2 separate regions of the Homo sapiens genome follow, and region 1 is linked to region 2. A link means that fine-mapping ties the variant in region 2 to the expression of a gene that starts in the linked region. Tissue or cell type: whole blood. Region 2 holds a variant in brackets; the other region holds the start of a gene. All regions are shown on one strand. Distances are between the middles of the regions.

Evidence for each region. PIP is the estimated chance that this variant, and not a neighbour inherited with it, causes the effect.
Region 1: MRPL41 starts here. The variant in region 2 is fine-mapped to the expression of MRPL41 in whole blood (TOPMed, PIP above 0.99).

The regions. Positions count from the first base shown.
Region 1 is chr9:137,547,028-137,555,168 of GRCh38, forward strand. MRPL41 (mitochondrial ribosomal protein L41) reads left to right here and starts at 4,852. Exons shown (of 2, transcript NM_032477.3): 1 at 4,852-4,951; 2 at 5,047-5,528. The coding sequence starts at 5,055. The coding sequence ends at 5,468. It overlaps PNPLA7 (patatin like domain 7, lysophospholipase), which reads right to left and starts at 3,375. Exons shown (of 35, transcript NM_001098537.3): 1 at 3,141-3,375; 2 at 558-632; 3 at 282-369. The coding sequence starts at 3,170. DPH7 (diphthamide biosynthesis 7) reads right to left here. Exons shown (of 9, transcript NM_138778.5): 9 at 7,417-8,141. It overlaps LOC124902317 (a long non-coding RNA gene), which reads right to left and starts at 6,653. Exons shown (of 2, transcript XR_007061883.1): 1 at 6,560-6,653; 2 at 5,500-5,674. RefSeq lists an enhancer at 2,484-2,985 and a silencer at 4,174-5,123.
Region 2 is chr9:137,589,107-137,597,276 of GRCh38, forward strand. It overlaps ZMYND19 (zinc finger MYND-type containing 19), which reads right to left and starts at 1,406. Exons shown (of 6, transcript NM_138462.3): 1 at 1,107-1,406. The coding sequence starts at 1,157. It overlaps LOC124902318 (a long non-coding RNA gene), which reads right to left. Exons shown (of 3, transcript XR_007061885.1): 2 at 3,699-3,764; 3 at 1,933-2,002. RefSeq lists an enhancer at 492-541 and silencers at 812-861, 912-1,021, 1,302-1,691, 1,882-1,951. The variant C/T (reference allele first, on the strand shown) is at 4,764.

The DNA of each region.
Region 1 (8,141 bases), 42 kb before region 2:
ACAGCATGAGGGAAGAGGGCCTGAGTGACAGGCTCATCTCCAACAAAGGGGGCTCTCCCCTCTTCCCACTGAAGCCTTGCTCAGGAGAGGAGAACAGAAAGGGCTCTGAACAGACTTGGCTTCCTGGAACCGACGGGCTCAGCCTGAGCCCAGACGGGCCATCAGATTCTAGCCAAAGCCACCATGCGCTTGAGGGCCCCTCCCAGGGGCTCAAAACACATCCCAAGACACCCACGCTTTCCCCCAACCCCCCGGGCCAGAGTCGGAACCAAGATACTCACGAAATTGTCTAAGCCTTCTGAACATGAAAAGGATGAGGACACCAACCAAGGCCAGGGCCAGGAGGGCTCCAACTGCAATCCCCGTCAGCTGGCCGAGAGTGGAAACACGGCGCCCATCAGCAAAGCCACAAACCTAACCCTAGCCCTAAGCCTGCCCCCACCCCTGGCTGCCCAACCACAGGCTGGGCAGGAATGAGCCAGGGGATGGGGACAGGGAGAGGTGAAAAAGGCCACGGCCCATCCAGGTCTGGCTCCAGGGAAGCGTGAGGTGATTACCATGGTGGACGGTGAACCTTCCTCCGTGAACCACAGTCCCCAAGAGTGCAGGGCGGTGCCCAGGCAGAAGTCAGCCTGCAGCAGAGAGCATGGGGTCAGGTGGGCATGGACAGGCTTCCCAGCCCGAACTTGTTCAGAGCAGCAGGAGGAGAGCTGGGAGTTAGGGGAGAAGTCAGCAGCCCTGGAGACTTCTGGGAAGAAGTGATCTCGCCCGGGGTGCCGGGGTCCTCTGAGCCCCCTGCTAGGAAGCACTCAGAGAGCAACCTGGCTCCCTCAGTCACTGGGATACAGTGGGGCAGGGCCAGCGGCTGCCCCAGGCATCACTAACACACCCACATGCTGGTGATGCAATCCTTGGGATGCAGGTCTCAGGGAGCAGGCCTGGCCAAAGGGGAGGCCAAGGCCCCCCTCTCAGTGTCGCCTCAGCCCCAGCAGGAGCAGTGCTCAAAACCCCTATGAGCCATCTGGATTCTGAGAACATTCAACACCAGTTCACATGCCAAACAAGGAGGCAGCGGCCGAGAAGGCTCTGTGTCCTGCAGTCTCCTGGAGCAGCAGGACTTCAGAAGTCCAGGTCCGCGGGAGGGAGGGAAGAGAGGGTGAGGGCAGGATGGTGAGTGAACGACAGCAGAGGACGCTGGTGGTTCCAAGAAGTGAAAGAGAAAACGAGAAGACGAGAAGACGACACCAGCCAGACAGGCAGCCCTCTCCATTCCTGCTGGCATCACACCTTCCTCCCAGGCAGCCAGGAACCGGATAGGGCAGGGGAAGCCACTGGTTCAGCCTGAAAGTTTCTACACAAGAGCCAAGGCCTAAAACAACACCCACCCCCGCCTCACTGCAGAGAGCAGGACTCCCATCCGTGCCAGAAAATCCAGGGAAGGGCCGGGCGCAGTGGCTCACGCCTGCAATCCCAGCACTTTGGGAGGCTGAGGCGGGCGGATCATGAGGTCAGGAGATCGAGACCATCCTGGCTAACACGGTGAAACCCCGTCTCTACTAAAAATTCAAAAATTAGCCGGGCGTGGTGGTGGGTGCCTGTAGTCCCAGCTACTTGGGAGGCTGAGGCAGGAGAATGGCGTGAACCCGGGAGGCAGAGCTTGCAGTGAGCTGAGATTGTGCTACTGCACTCCAGCCTGGGCGACAGAGCGAGACTCCATCTCAAAAAAAAGAAAACTCAGGGAAGTCAGAAGAGCACTCAGAAACGCATTTAAAGACACAATTCTGCACCAAGACAGAATGAGGACGTGCCCAGAAAGCTGAGCCCTTCGAACTTGGTTCAGAAGCAAATACAAGCCCTGGGAGCTTCTGCTTCAGGACAGGGGAACCCCTACGCTCACTCTCAACCAGGTGGGGAGCAGAGAAGCACCTACGACCATGTCCCTCACTTAAGGAAGCGAAGTGAGTCCCTCAGCCCAGCAACCGCTTCTGGGACCGATTATCCAAGGAAGGCCTATCACGCGATGGCCCGTGACCTGGTCACAGGCTCTCCTGCGGTGGAGCGGCTCAGCCTTTTCTAGCTTTTCACTGTTGCTTTAATGGGTCCAGTGTTCTGGTTTAGGAAATAAGGCCTTTGCCATGTGGCTACAGATGTTTGACTAAGAAAAAGATTCTAGGGCTGGGCACAGTGTCTCACGCCTGTAATCCCAGCACTTTGGGAGGCCGAGGCGGGCAGATCATGAGGTCAAGAGTTCAAGACTAGGCCGGGCACGGTGGCTCATGCCTGTAATCCCTGCACTTTGGGAGGCCAAGGCGGGCGGATCACGAGGTCAGGAAATCGAGACCATCCTGGCTAACACAGTGAAACACCGTCTCTACTGAAAATACAAAAAAATATTAGCCGGGCGTGGTGGTGGGCGCCTGTAGTCCCAGCTACTTGGGAGGCCGAGGCAGGAGAATGGCGTGAACCTGGGAGGCAGAGCTTGCAGTGAGTTGAGATCGTGCCACTGCAATCCAGCTTGGGCGACAGAGCAAGACTCCGTCTCAAAAAAAAAAAAAAAAAAAGTTCAAGACCAGCCTGGCCAACATGGCGAAACCCCGTTTCTACTAAGAATACAAAAATTAGCCGGGCGTGGTGCCTGTAGTCCCAGCTACCCGGGAGGCTGAGGCAGAATTGCCTGAACCCAGGAGGCGGAGGTTGCTGTGAGCCAAGATCACACCATTGCACACCAGCCTGGGCGACAGAGCGAGACTCCGTCTTGGGAAAAAAAAAAACACAGAAAAAGGTTCTAAGCAAAACCATCAGGCAAAGTCCTAAAGGAACTGGAAGTAGCAACTGTGACCTTAGGGGAAGAAAAGACAAGGCCTCAGGCAATGCCCATGGGCCACCGCTGGCTGCCCTCGCTGTGAACAATGCCCATGGGCCACCACTGGCTGTCTGCTGTGACAGGCGCGTCTAACAAGTGCTGGCAGCTGTGACAGGCAGCAGAGAGGGGCCAGATCCACCACTCCCACAGTCCTCAGGCGCCAAGAAGCCACGGGGCCAAAGAGCGCGGCAGAGCAGACGCCAAGAGGACCCTTCTCTGGGTCCAGAAATGCCCCCCAACTGGGAAATCCAGGCATCTGGTCCCCCGAGTTACATACCTGTGGGCTGTCATCTTTCTCTTCCTCCATGGCCAGAAACAGAAAAAACAGTCAGGGGCGAAAAGCAGACAGCCTGAAGCAAACAAGGGCACACCTCTACCCGCTCATGCTCACACCTGGACACTTTTCCCTGGGTTCCTTTCAAGTCAAATTATGTTTCACTGAAAGGAAAATCCTGCTGAAAAAGTCTGTTCTCCAGGAAGAAAAGCTGTCTTTTGAGAAGTGTCTGTCATCTGCTAGGAGCCACCTCCTTCCCTCTGTAAACAGCCCTCACGTGGCTGTCCCGGAACCCAGAACAGCAGCCAGATGGGGCGTATCCAAGCAGGTCAAGAGGAGCCAGGCCCAGCGCGGCGGGGATGGGGGCAGCGCTGCCTTCTGGAGAAGCACGGCTGGAGGGGAGGTGACGCTGGCGGGGCGTGGATCCGGGGTGTGGGGATGCAGCTGGGGAGGAGGGTGCAGCTGGGGAGGGGGTGGATCCGGCGTGTAGGGGTACCGCTGGGGAGTGGGTGCAGCTGGGGAGGGGGTGGATCTGGGGTGTGGGGGTGCCGCTGGGGAGTGGGTGCAGCTGGGGAGGGGGTGGATCCGGCGTGTAGGGGTACCGCTGGGGAGTGGGTGCAGCTGGGGAGGGGGTGGATCTGGGGTGTGGGGGTACTGCTGGGGAGAGGGTGCAGCTGGGGAGCGCGTGGATCCGGCGAGTGGGGGTACCGCTAGGGAGGGGGTGCAGCTGGGGAGGGGGTGGATCTGGGGTGTGGGGGTGCCGCTGGGGAGGGGGTGCAGCTGGGGAGGGGGTGGATCTGGGGCGTGGGGGTGCCGCTGGGGAGGGGGTGCAGCTGGGGAGGGGGTGGATCTGGGGCGTGGGGGTGCCGCTGGGGAGGGGGTGCAGCTGGGGAGGGGATGGATCTGGGGTGTGGGGGTACCGCTGGGGAAGGGCGTGCAGCTGGAGAGGGGATGGATCTGGGCTGTGGGGGTGCCGCTGGGGACGGGGTGCAGCTGGGGAGGGGGTGGATCCGGATTGTGAGGGTGCGGCTGGGGGGCGACTTCCGCGTGGGGTGAGAGGTCGCCTGCGAGGGTGACCGGGCAGGAGGGCTCAGTGCGCAAGCCGGACGTGCTGGGTCCAAGATTATTGATTAATTTGGGCACCGCGAGGGCTCGAGTCCCCCCACACCACTGCCCGGCCTGCGGGGGAGCACAGACAGCCCGGGCCCTCCCGGCTGCAGGTCCCGGGCTTTCCCCGCGCGGTTGCCGGCTCCGCCCAGAGGAGCCGCGCCCGGCGGAGGGGTAAGAAAGGCAGGGTCGCGGCGTCAACGCGGCGGCCGTCTCGAGTCCAGGGCCCGCGTCCTCCCCGACCTCCCGACGCCACCTCACGGCCTCAGGGGGACTGGGCTCCCGGGAAACCGCCGGCCACCTGGCGGACGAACACAGGCAGTGGCGGGCAGTGGAGACGCCAGGGACCACCGCGCTGAGAGCGATCACTCATCCGCCAGCCCCGCCCCGCGAGCCCCGCCCCGCGAGCCCCGCCCCGCGAGCCCCGCCCCGCGAGCCCCGCCCCGCGAGCCCCGCCCCGCGAGCCCCGCACCGCCGGCCCCGCACCGCCAGCCCCGCGAGCCCCGCCCCGCCCCGCGCGCTCCTCGCATTGGCCGAGTCCCCGCGGCCACACCCCCTACCAGATTGGGGCCGCTATTGGACGCGGCGGCCGCGGCCAATCGGAGCCGCTCTTGCTGCGACGCAGCGGTCGGAAGCGGAGCAAGGTCGAGGCCGGGTTGGCGCCGGAGCCGGGGCCGCTTGGAGCTCGTGTGGGGTCTCCGGTCCAGGTGAGTCTGTCGGATTGGGGCGGGCGCCGCGCGCGGCCAGGGGCGGGGCTGGCCGGGTTCCCGGGGCCGCGACTACCCGCTCTCTCCTCCCGCAGGGCGCGGCATGGGCGTCCTGGCCGCAGCGGCGCGCTGCCTGGTCCGGGGTGCGGACCGAATGAGCAAGTGGACGAGCAAGCGGGGCCCGCGCAGCTTCAGGGGCCGCAAGGGCCGGGGCGCCAAGGGCATCGGCTTCCTCACCTCGGGCTGGAGGTTCGTGCAGATCAAGGAGATGGTCCCGGAGTTCGTCGTCCCGGATCTGACCGGCTTCAAGCTCAAGCCCTACGTGAGCTACCTCGCCCCTGAGAGCGAGGAGACGCCCCTGACGGCCGCGCAGCTCTTCAGCGAAGCCGTGGCGCCTGCCATCGAAAAGGACTTCAAGGACGGTACCTTCGACCCTGACAACCTGGAAAAGTACGGCTTCGAGCCCACACAGGAGGGAAAGCTCTTCCAGCTCTACCCCAGGAACTTCCTGCGCTAGCTGGGCGGGGGAGGGGCGGCCTGCCCTCATCTCATTTCTATTAAACGCCTTTGCCAGCTATACGGTGTTTGTTTTTTGGCCTCAGGTCATGGCAAAGTGTGCAGCATGACAGATTTCAGTGCAGGCACCTAAGCCGAGTTCTCATGCAGACTCGGCGCTGTGAACCTCTTTGGAGGTCATCTTCCGAGTCCGAAGGTTCTGGGAACCTGCCAAGGGCAAACATCACTCAGCTTGCAGGAGAAAGAATTTACAAGGCAGATTGTGCCGGATGACAGCACTGGTCAGTTCATCCCCCAAATTATTCACCCAGGGAACAAAGATACAGAGATGGGGGTCTCACTATGCTGCCCAGGCTGAGAACTCATGGGCTGAAATGATCCGCCCGCCTCAGCCTCCCAAAATGCTGGGATTACAGGTGTGAGCCACTGCGCCCAGCCTAGGAAAATTTCCTGTTGCAATCTGACATATAGTGACATGTTGTGTTGTATCATCAGAAAAGAAGAAAGGGATAAGGCCAGGTGCGGTGGCTCACGCCTGTAATCCCAGCACATTGGGAGGCTGAGGCGGGAGGATCACAAGATTAGGAGTTCAAGACCAGCCTGGCCAGCATGATGAAACCCCATCTCTACTAAAAATACAAAAATTAGCCAGGCGTGGTGGCGTGCGACTGTAGTCCCAGCTACTCCAAAGGCAAGAGAATCGCTTAAACCCAGGAGGCAGAGCTTGCAGTGAGTCGAGATCGCACCACTGCACTCCAGCCTGGGTAACAGAGTGAGACTCCGTCTCAAAAAAGGGATAAAACTGCATGTTTTTTTGCTTGTAGTCACCTATGTATCATTAGTAAATGCTGAGGATTTGACAAATAGTGGCCTGTACCTCAACCACAGTTCCTCCCAGAGAGACAAAAGCCCTCACAGCAGGAGTTGGATGTAACACACCCAGTTTGTTCACACACCTAAAGTCACCATCTGTCCAGTATTTGGGAGCTAACCCGTGTGGGTGCTGCAGTGATGAGTGTTCCCTACAGACTTCACATATTTCAAGCTGATGACCCCCAAGGCAACTTGGAACACACACTCCCTTTTACTTACCTGCATAGGGATCCAATACAGGTTGAGCGTCGTTATCCAAAATGCTTGGGGCTGGGCGCCCTGGCTCATGCCTGTAATCCCAGCACTTTGGGAAGCCGAGACAGGCGGGTCATCTGAGGTCAGGAGCCTGGCCAACATGGTGAAACCCCATTTGTACTAAAAATACAAAAATTAGCCAGGCATGGTGGCACACACCTGTAATCCCAGCTACTCCGGAGGCTGAGGCAGGAGAATCACTTGAACCTGGGAGGTGGAGGGCAGTGAGTCGAGATGGAGCCACCGAGATTGAGCCACTGCACTCCAGCCTGGGTGACGAGCATGACTCTGTCTCAAAAAAAAAAAAAGGCACAGCTCAACGCCTGTAATCCCGGCACTTTGGGCGGCCAAGGTGGACGGATCACCTGAGGTCCAGAGTTTGAGAGCAGCCTGACCAACATGGAGAAACCTTGTCTCTACTAAATATACAAAATTAGCCGGGCATGCTGGTGGATGCCAGCTATTGGGAGGGTGAGGCAGGAGAATCGCTTGAACTTGGGAGGCGGAGGTTGCAGTGAGTCAAGATTGTGCCATTGCACCCCAGCCTGGGCAGCAAGAGCAAAACTCCATCTCGGGGGGCAAAAAAAAAAAAAGCTTGGAACCAGAAATGTTTTGGATTTCAGATTTTGGAATATCTGCATGTACATAATGAGACATCTTGGGGATGAGATGAGATACAAGTCTAAACATGAAATTCAATTTTGTTTCATGTACACCTTATACACATAGCCTGAGGGTAGTTTTATACAATATATATGTTTTTTAGGCTAGTCAAATGAAGCTGTGAGAGAAGGAATGAATCTGTAACTGGTTGTCCTCAATTATTGTTTATACAATTTTTTATTATTTAATTTTTAGAGATAAGAGTCTTGCTCTGTTGCCCCTGGCTCATTGCAGCCTCGACCTCCTGGGCTCAACAATCCTCCTGCCTCAGCCTCCCAAGTGGCTGGGACCATAGGCACATGCACCACACCTGGCTAATTTTTGTTTTACTTTTTATAGAGACTGGGTTTTGCTATGTTGCCCAGGCTGGTCTTGAACTCCAGGCCTCAAGCAATCCTCCTGCCTCAGCCCCTTCCAAAGTGCTGGGATTACAGGCCACTGTGACTGTGCTCAGTAGTTTTAATAATATATGCAACCCGTCACATGAGTTCAGCTGCGGGATTTTCCAAAAGTTTTGGGATTTTGGATTTTTGGACTGGCTGTGCTCAATCTATACAAGCATTTCTGGTGCCATGATGAGGCATAAAATGTTCATTTTAAACATGTTATAAACTCGTGTTTTTCAAAAAACTTCATTTAATACAAATAGTTGCTTAAACAAGTATGAAAGGCTGAAAGTCAAAATCTGCCTGAGAAACTTAACAAATCTGCAAGCTGGAAACCGCGTCTTTTCCCCACTCTCTGCCAGACAGAATCACCCAGTCCACTTTCAGGGGCCCAGCAGGGAAGCTGATTTAAGAGAAGTCAACAGCTTTTCTGACTACACTGTGGATTCCATCAGTGCACAGGCACCTGCAGGGCTGCAGTAAGCATCTCTGATGAG
Region 2 (8,170 bases):
ATTAGGGTGTGTTTATTAAGCTGAGCTACTCACTGATTACCCTTTTTAGCTTTTTGTCCATCTGAAATGTTCCAAAGAAAAGCTGTAAGGGATGACAATGCCATCATGGGTGGAGTTAGAAGGGGTCTCTGGTCTCCGACCTGACTGGAGAGCCCACCCTTCCCTGGTGGAAAAAAGCCTCCTCCCCAGCAGGCCCTGCCTATGCTCTTGCAGCAGGGGCAGGAAACAGGAACAGGTCCCAGAACGGGCCAGTCTCCCTCTTGGCAGTTTTTCTTCTGGGATCTGAACCTGTTTTACCTGACGCCGCCTGACACTGCCTCGGCTCCTCTCTCCCACCAAAAGCCGCAGCCGCTGGTGACGGGAACAGGGCTCCCATCCGGGTAAGGACCCTGGCTGGTGCAGCTGCACAGGTGGCTCCGAGAAACCGCCAAGCCTCAATGCCCACAGGTGCCATGGAATCCCCAGCCTCAAACGTGGAGCGTGGGGGCCAAGTAAGAAGAGAAGTCGAGGAAGGCCCTGAGTCTGCAGCATCAGGGCCCAGGCTTCTTCCTCTCTGCTCCGAGTCTGAGGCTCAGCCTAACGTGGCCAACCCCTGGCAGCGTTAAAACGAGCCTGAAGCCCTGCTGAGAACTGGGAGGCACAGAAGAGCCCACACCAGACCCGCCTCGGCGAGAGGTGTGGAAGTGGCGCTGCCTCGGAAAGGGCGCTGTGTTTAAACCGTGTGGCCGCACTGGCAGCCCGGACGCCGCGCTAGGCCCCGGATCGCCGACACCACTGGGAGGGCTCCGGGAGAACGCGGCTCGGGCTCGAGCCACGCATCTCCGCACCCGGCTCGGGACAGGGCCGTGGCCTCCACCTCCGGCAGGGCAGGGCCGAGGGTGGCCAGGTGCACCCCAGAGCCGAGGGGTGCGTGCCCGCCGGCCTGCGAGAGGAAGCTGCACCCGCGCGGGGCCAGCAGCCGGGCCCGCGCAGCGTCCCCCGCCCCGCTGGGGCCCATCCCGGGCTCCGCGCCCCCGCCCCGGCCGCCGCCCGCACAACCGCCCCCGGCCCCGCGCGGAGGCCTGGACGGGCGAGACGGGCCGGGTCGCGGGCTCCGCGCCGCTCACCTTCCCGGCCACCCGGCCGAGCCGCACGATACCCAATTTGAAGTCGGTCATGGCCGGGCCTGCGCTCTCGGCCGGCAGCGCCGCTCCCTCGGGAGGCGCCGAGCGGGGGCCGGGGCGAGGCCGCGGCGCGCCGGGACAGGACGGGACCGGAGCCGGGGTCGGGGTAGCAGCCAGGCGGGCTCCGGGCGGGACGAGGCTGGGCCGGGCTCGGGCCTCCGCCGCCGCCTCGCGCCCGCCGGACCTGCCACGCGCCGCCGCCGCCGCCGCCACCGCCACCGCGCGCACCACAGCGAGCGGAGCGGAGGGGCGGGGCGCAGCCCCGGACACACCCCCCGGCCCGCCGCCGCTCGGCCAATGGCTAGGCGCGCACGGCGCCGACCGGCGCGCGCCGCCCCGCAACAACCAATAGGAGGAGGGCGAGTGCGCCGGCGCTCTGGGGAGCGGGGCGAGCGCGGGGGAGGGGCGAGGCCGGGGGCGGTGCCTGCGCGCGCCGACGTCAGTTTCGCGGGAAGCTTTGTGCGGGCAGCGGCGCCGCGCCTAGAGGGGCAGTGCGGAGTGTGGCTGGGGACTCGCGCCGGGTCCGTGGAGCTCTGCGAGCTGGCTGCTTTTCGCCTCCCTTGCGGTAGCCTCCGTAAGCTGTTTCCCGCCGCCGTCCTGGCCCCGAGCGCGGAAGGAGGAGGTGGACGGAGCTCGTGCGGGGCCCTCTGGGCGGGCGGGGAGCGGGCGAGGCGGGCTAGGAAGAGGCCGTTGCCGCGGGACGCGGGTGTTTCTGGAGAGACAGCGGACGCCCGGCCCACGCGACCCGGAGGGCGCGGCCTCCCGCGCAGCCTTCTCCGAGCCGCCGGCTCTTCAGCCTCGGGGGCGGCTGACCTCCAGAGCAGCCTGGTCCAAGGCGTCTGGAAACGGAACTCCAGTGAGGCCCATTAGGCTCCGCGGGAAAGCCGAGACCCGCTCAGGGAGGGACTGGGTACGCCGTGGTGGGCAGCGTGGCTCCCCTGCAGCCTGGAGCGAACGGGGCTAGGTCCTGCGTCCTGCTCCGCCGGTGTCCAGTCGCCCGTGAGGAGGCCTCACCCTGCCTCAAGGGCGACTCCTGCACCTGAGGAGCTGCACAGGCTCCTTTCTGGCTTGCTGGGTTCCGTTTTCTTTTCTTGCTTTTTTTTTTTTTTTTTTTGAGTCAGAGTTTTGCTCTGTCACCCAGGCTAGAGTGCAGTGGCACGATCTCGGCTCACTGCAGCCTCTGCCTCTCGGGTTCAAGCGACTCTCCTGCCTCAGCCTCCCGAGTAGCTGGGACTACAGGCACGCGCCACCATGTCCGGCTAATTTTTGTATTTTTAGTAGAAGTGAGGTTTTTCCATATTGGCCAGGATGGTCTCGAACTCCCAACCTGAGGTGATCGGCCCACCTCGGCCTCCCAAAGTGCTGGGATTACAGGCATGAGCCACCGTGCCCCAGCCTGCAAAGGGTGTACATGAGTGAGCCCAGACGTTCCATCTCTGGGTCCCCTGGTACTTGCCAGTACCCCAGACACCCTAGAGGACTGAAGGGGCTGATGAGTCCTGGCCTGCCTGAGACACACATTGGGGTTCAGGCTGGGCCTTGCTCAAAACATGCCTGTCCGACCGCGCGCGGTGGCTCATGCCTGTAATCCTAGCACTTTGGGAGGCCGAGGCGGGCAGATCACGAGGTCAGGAGCTGGAGACCATCCTGGCTAACACGGTGAAACCCCACCTCTACTAAAAATACAAAAAAAAAAGCCGGGCGTGGTGGCGGGTGCCTGTAGTCCCAGCTACTTGGGAGGCTGAGGCAAGAGAATGGCTTGAACCCGGGAGGCAGAGCTTGCAGTGAGCCGAGATCGTGCCACTGCACTCCAGGTTGGGCGACAGAGCGAGACTCCGTCTCAAAAAAAAAAAAAAAAGTACCTGCCCTACCAATCTCAACCTCATGGAGTTGCAAGGGTGTGATGAGATTATGAGCAACTGCTTTGTGAAAAGAAGTGGAGCTTGGTGGGTGCTCCCTAGGGTAGTTGAAAAGCACTGGTGTCATAGTCCAGGTTCCCCCAGAGGTTGACTTGAAATGGATTCGAGTCCAAATTTTGTCCGGGCCTGGTGGCTCATACCTGTAATCCCAGCACTTTGGGAGGCCGAGGCAAGTGGATCACCTGAGGTCAGGAGTTCAAGACCAGCTTGGCCAACAGGGTGAAATCCCGTTTCTACTAAAAATACAAAAATTAGCGGATGTGGTGGCACACACTTGTATTCCCAGCTACTTGGGAGGCTGAGGCAGGAACATCGCGTGAACCCAGGAGGCAGAGGTTGCAGTGAGCCAAGATTGTGCCACCACACTCCAGTCTGGGCAACAGAGTGAAACTCCGTCAAAAAAAAAAAAAAGTCCAAATTGTTAGCTTGAGAGAAGACCCCAGGAGACACCAGCAGGAGAGTAGGGGTGTGAGGCAGGGAAGGGGGTGCTACCAGTCCAGTTACTGTAGCAGGCGCTTGTGTAGGAACCATCCTCAGAGTCCCTCCCCGAGGGCCAGGGGAGCCAAGGCATTCACCCTTCACCCTGCTGCAAGGGGACCCAGCATTCACCTCTCACCTTGCAGTCATTGGTTGGAGGCTGTTCCTGGCAAGGTGACTTCTTGGCTCCAAAGCCGAGAAAGACCTGCAGGTGTTGACACAGCGCAGTGCTGCGGGCAGTGCCCAGCTGGCTTGGGAACTCATACCTGGTCCACCACAAGCCGGCTGCTTTATCTACACATTCTACCCAAGTATGAATGTGGCACCCCTGCCTCTGTGTCCTGCGAGGGTGGAATTATGTAACGCTGGGGCGGTGCTTCCTCTCACTGCAGCTTCCCTCTCCCAGGGGCAGGCACCTTAAAAAGAAGCCCTTGACTCCCCCATCCCTTTCCAGCCACTGCCTCATTTTCCTACTTCCCATCCCAGCAAGAGTTTTTAACAGGTTGTCTGTACTTGGCGTCTCCTCTTATCTCCTAGTTAATTCGTTTTCTATCACTTTATAACAACCAACCACAAAAGAGCACCCATTATCTCACGGTTCTGTGCATTAGAAGTGCAGGTGGGTTTGACTGGCTTCTCTGCTGCAGGTCTCAGGGCTGAAATCAGGGTGTCAGCTGCCTCAGCTCTTAGCAGGGGCCCTAGGGGAGACCCGGGCTACAGGCTCCTTCAGGTTGTTGACATTCATCACATGGTTGTATGAGGTCTCCGCTTGCTGGCTGCCGGCCCGGGGTTGTTCTCAGCTTCTAGAGGTCGCTCACATCTTCAAAACCAGCAAGACTTTCTTTTCTTTTTAGACAGAGTCTGGCTTCGTCATCCAGGCCGGAGTGCAGTGGTACAATCTCGGGTCGCTGCCACCTCCGCCTCCCGGGTTCAAGTGATTCTCCTGCCTCAGCTTCCCGAGTAGCTGGGACTACAGGTGCCCTCCACCATGCCCAGCTAATTTTTAAATTTTTAGTAGACATGGTTTCACCATGCCAGCCAGGCTAGTCTTGAACTCCCGGCTTCAAGTGATCCGCCCGCCTCAGCCTCCCAAAATGCTGGGATTACAGGTGTGAGCCATTGTGCCCGGCCAAAGCCAGCCTTTCTACTACTTCACGTCTTTGATCCTTTCTGTCCCATTTCTCCCACCTTCAGCTGGAGAAAG[C/T]TTTATGCCTTTAAGTGTTCCTGTGATTAGATTGGGTCCACCCAGATAAACAGGATAATCTCCCTATTTTAAGGTCACTAATTGGTAACCTACTTACATCTGCAAAGTCCCTTTTGTTATGTAACATAATATTACAGGCGCAGGCATAAGGGCGTGACACCTTTGGGGGGCATTCTGCCTACCGCCCAAGTCTCCTGACAGCCCACTCCAGCTGGGCTTTCACCCCTCCCACTGCTGAAACTGCTCCACACCAATGAACAAAATCAATGAAAGCCCCTGCTCATACTCGAGTGAGGGGGGCAGAACATACACGTAATGAGGAACCATACACCGCGTTGGCCAGTGAGAAGTGCAATGGGGAGAACAAGTCCATCACCATAAGGCAGTCAGAGGCCCTGCTGCAGGGGTGGGCAGAGCCGTCCTCTGAGAAAACAGCATTGGAACTTGCAGTGGAAGGAGACAGAGTGAGCCGTGTGGCTATACAGGGCAGAACATTCTTGGCAGAAGGAACGGCCTGTGCAAAGGCCCTAAGCTGCGACATGTCTGGCATGTTTGAAAATAGAGAGGTGGGGCTGGGTGTGGTGGCTCACTTTGGGAGGCCGGGGTGGGTGGATCACTTGAGGCCAGGAGTTCAACACCAACCTGGCCAACAGGGCAAAACCCTGTCTCTACTAAAAATACAAAAATTAGCCAGGTGTGGTGGCACATGCCTGTAATCCCAGCTACTCGGGAGGCTGAGGCAGGAGAATCGCTTGAACCCAGGAGGCAGAGGTTGCAGTGAGCTGAGATCACTCCACTGCACTCCAACCTGGGCAACAGGGCAAGACTCTGTCATGAAAGAAAATGGATGGCCTGAACCTGGGAGGTGGAGCTTGCAGTGAGCCTAGATCACGCCACTGCACTACAGCCTGGGCGACAGAGCAAGACTTCGTCTCGAAAGAAAATGGAGAGGTGGCCAATGAACTGGCCACTGAGAAGCAGCAGCACATGGGGCGGCGGGAGGGGCGGCAAGTACAGGATGAGCATTCAGATCTGAAATCTGAGATGCTGCAAAATCTGAACCTTGTAAGCACTGACATGACACTCAAAGGAAGTGCTCATTGGAGCATTTTGGATTTTGGATATGGAAAGCGCCATCAGGCAAGTATAATACAAAGAGTCCAAAATCCAAAATCTGAAACACTTCTAGTCCCGAGCATTTTGGATAAGGGACACTCGACCTCTCCTGGTAAGTGGTGATGTTTGGACCTGTGGTGGAGGGGTGTGTATGTCAGGATGGGCCTGGGTATGCTGCAGTAACAACCCCAAGTTCTCAGCGGCTTAGCCAAATAAAAATGTGTTACTTATGCTACATGTTAAGGTTACAAGGCAGTTGAATGTATAAGTAGAATATGTGAGTATAGAGTTCACAGAGATGTCCAGCCTGGGAATATAAGTTTGGCATCATGGCTGAGCGCGGTGGCTCACGCCTGTACTCCCAGCATTTTGGGAGACCGAGGCGGGCAGATCACGAGGTCAGGAGTTCAAGACCAGCTTGGCCAACATGGTGAAACCCTGTCTCTACTAAAAATACAAAAATTAGCCGGATGTGGTGGTGCGCACCTGTATTCCCAGCTACTCGGGAGGCTGAGGCAGGAGAATGACTTGAACCTGGGAGGCAGAGGTTGCAGTGAGCCAAGATCATGCCGTTGCGCTCCAGCCTGGGCAATAGAGTGAGACTCTGTCTCAAAAAAACAAAAAAAAAGTTTGGCATCATTAGCACATTTATTATATTTAAAGCTCTCTTAGAGACAGGTGCAGTGGCTCACACCTGTAATCCCTGCACTTTGGGAGGCTGAGGTTGGTGGATCGCTTGAGCCCAGGAGTTTGAGACCAGGCTGGGCAACATGGCAAGATGCTGTCTCTACAAAAAACAAAAATTAGCCAGGCATAGTGGCCCATGCCTGTAGTCACAGCTACTTGGGAGGCTGGGGTGGAAGGATCACCTGAGCCTGGGGATGTTGAGGATGCAGTGAGCTGTGATGGGGCCACTGCCCTCCAGCCTGGGTGACAGAGTGAGACCCTGAATTTTGGAGGGACACAAGCATTCAAACCATGGCAAAACTCATAAAACTGGATGAGATTACCATGAGGGAAAACGTGGATGTAGAGAGTGCAGCACTATTCACAAGAGCAAAGACATGGAATCAACCTAAATGCTGGCCAGCCCGGTGGCTCAGGCCTGTAATCCCAGCACTTTTGGAGGACGAGGCAGGCAGATCACCTGAGGTCAGGAGTTCGAGACCAGCCTGGCCAACATGGTGAAATCCCATCTCTACTAAAAATACAATTAGCTGGGTGTACTGGCAGTTGCCTGTAATCCCAGGTAGTTGGGAGGCTGAGACAGGAGAATCACTTGAATCCGGGAGGTGGAGGTTGCAGTGAGCCAAGATCATGCCACCACTGCAGTCTAGTCTGGGCTACAGAGTGAGACTCCATCTCAAACAAACAAACAAAAACCTAAATGCCCATCAGTGACAGATTGGATAAAGAAAATGTGGTACAGCCGGGCACAGTGGCTTACGCCTGTAATCCCAGCACTTTGGGCGGCTGAGGCGGGTGGAACACCTGGGGTCAGAAGTACAAGACCAGCCTGGCCAACATGGTGAAACCCCATCTCTACTAAAAATACAAAAATTAGCTGGGCGTGATGGTGTGTGCCTGTAATCCCAGCTACTTGAGAGGCTGAGGCAGGAGAATCGCTTGAGTCCAGGAGGTGGAGGTTGCAGTGAGCCGAGATTGCGCCATTGCACCCCAGCCTGGGCGACAGAGCGAGACTCAGTCTCAAAAAAAAAAAAAAAAAAAAAAAAAGCTGTGGTACATATACACCATGGAATACTATGCAGCTATAAAAAAATGAGAGCATGTCTTTTGTGGGAACATGGATGGAGCTGGAGGCGATCATCCTTAGCAAACTAACACAGGAACAGAAAACCAAATACCACATGTTCTCACTTACATGTGGGAGCTAAATGATGAGAGCTTATGAACACGAAGAAGAAAATAATACTGGGCTTAATGCCTGGATGATGAGATAATATGTACAACAAACCTGGTGACAGGTGTTTACCTATGTAACAAACCTCACATATCCCCAAACCTAAAGTAAAAGTTTAAAGTTAGGCCGGGTGTGGTGGCTCACACCTGTAATCCCAGCACTTTGGGAGGCCGAGGTGGGTGGATCACCTGAGGTCAGGAGTTCAAGACCAGTCTGGCCAACATGGCAGAAACCTGTTTGTAAACCTCTACTAAAAAAACAAAAATTAGGGCCAGGGCGGTGACTCACACCTGTAATCCCAGCACTTTGGGAGGCCGAGGAGGGCGGATCACCTGAGGTCAGGAGTTCGAGACCAGCTTGACCAACATGG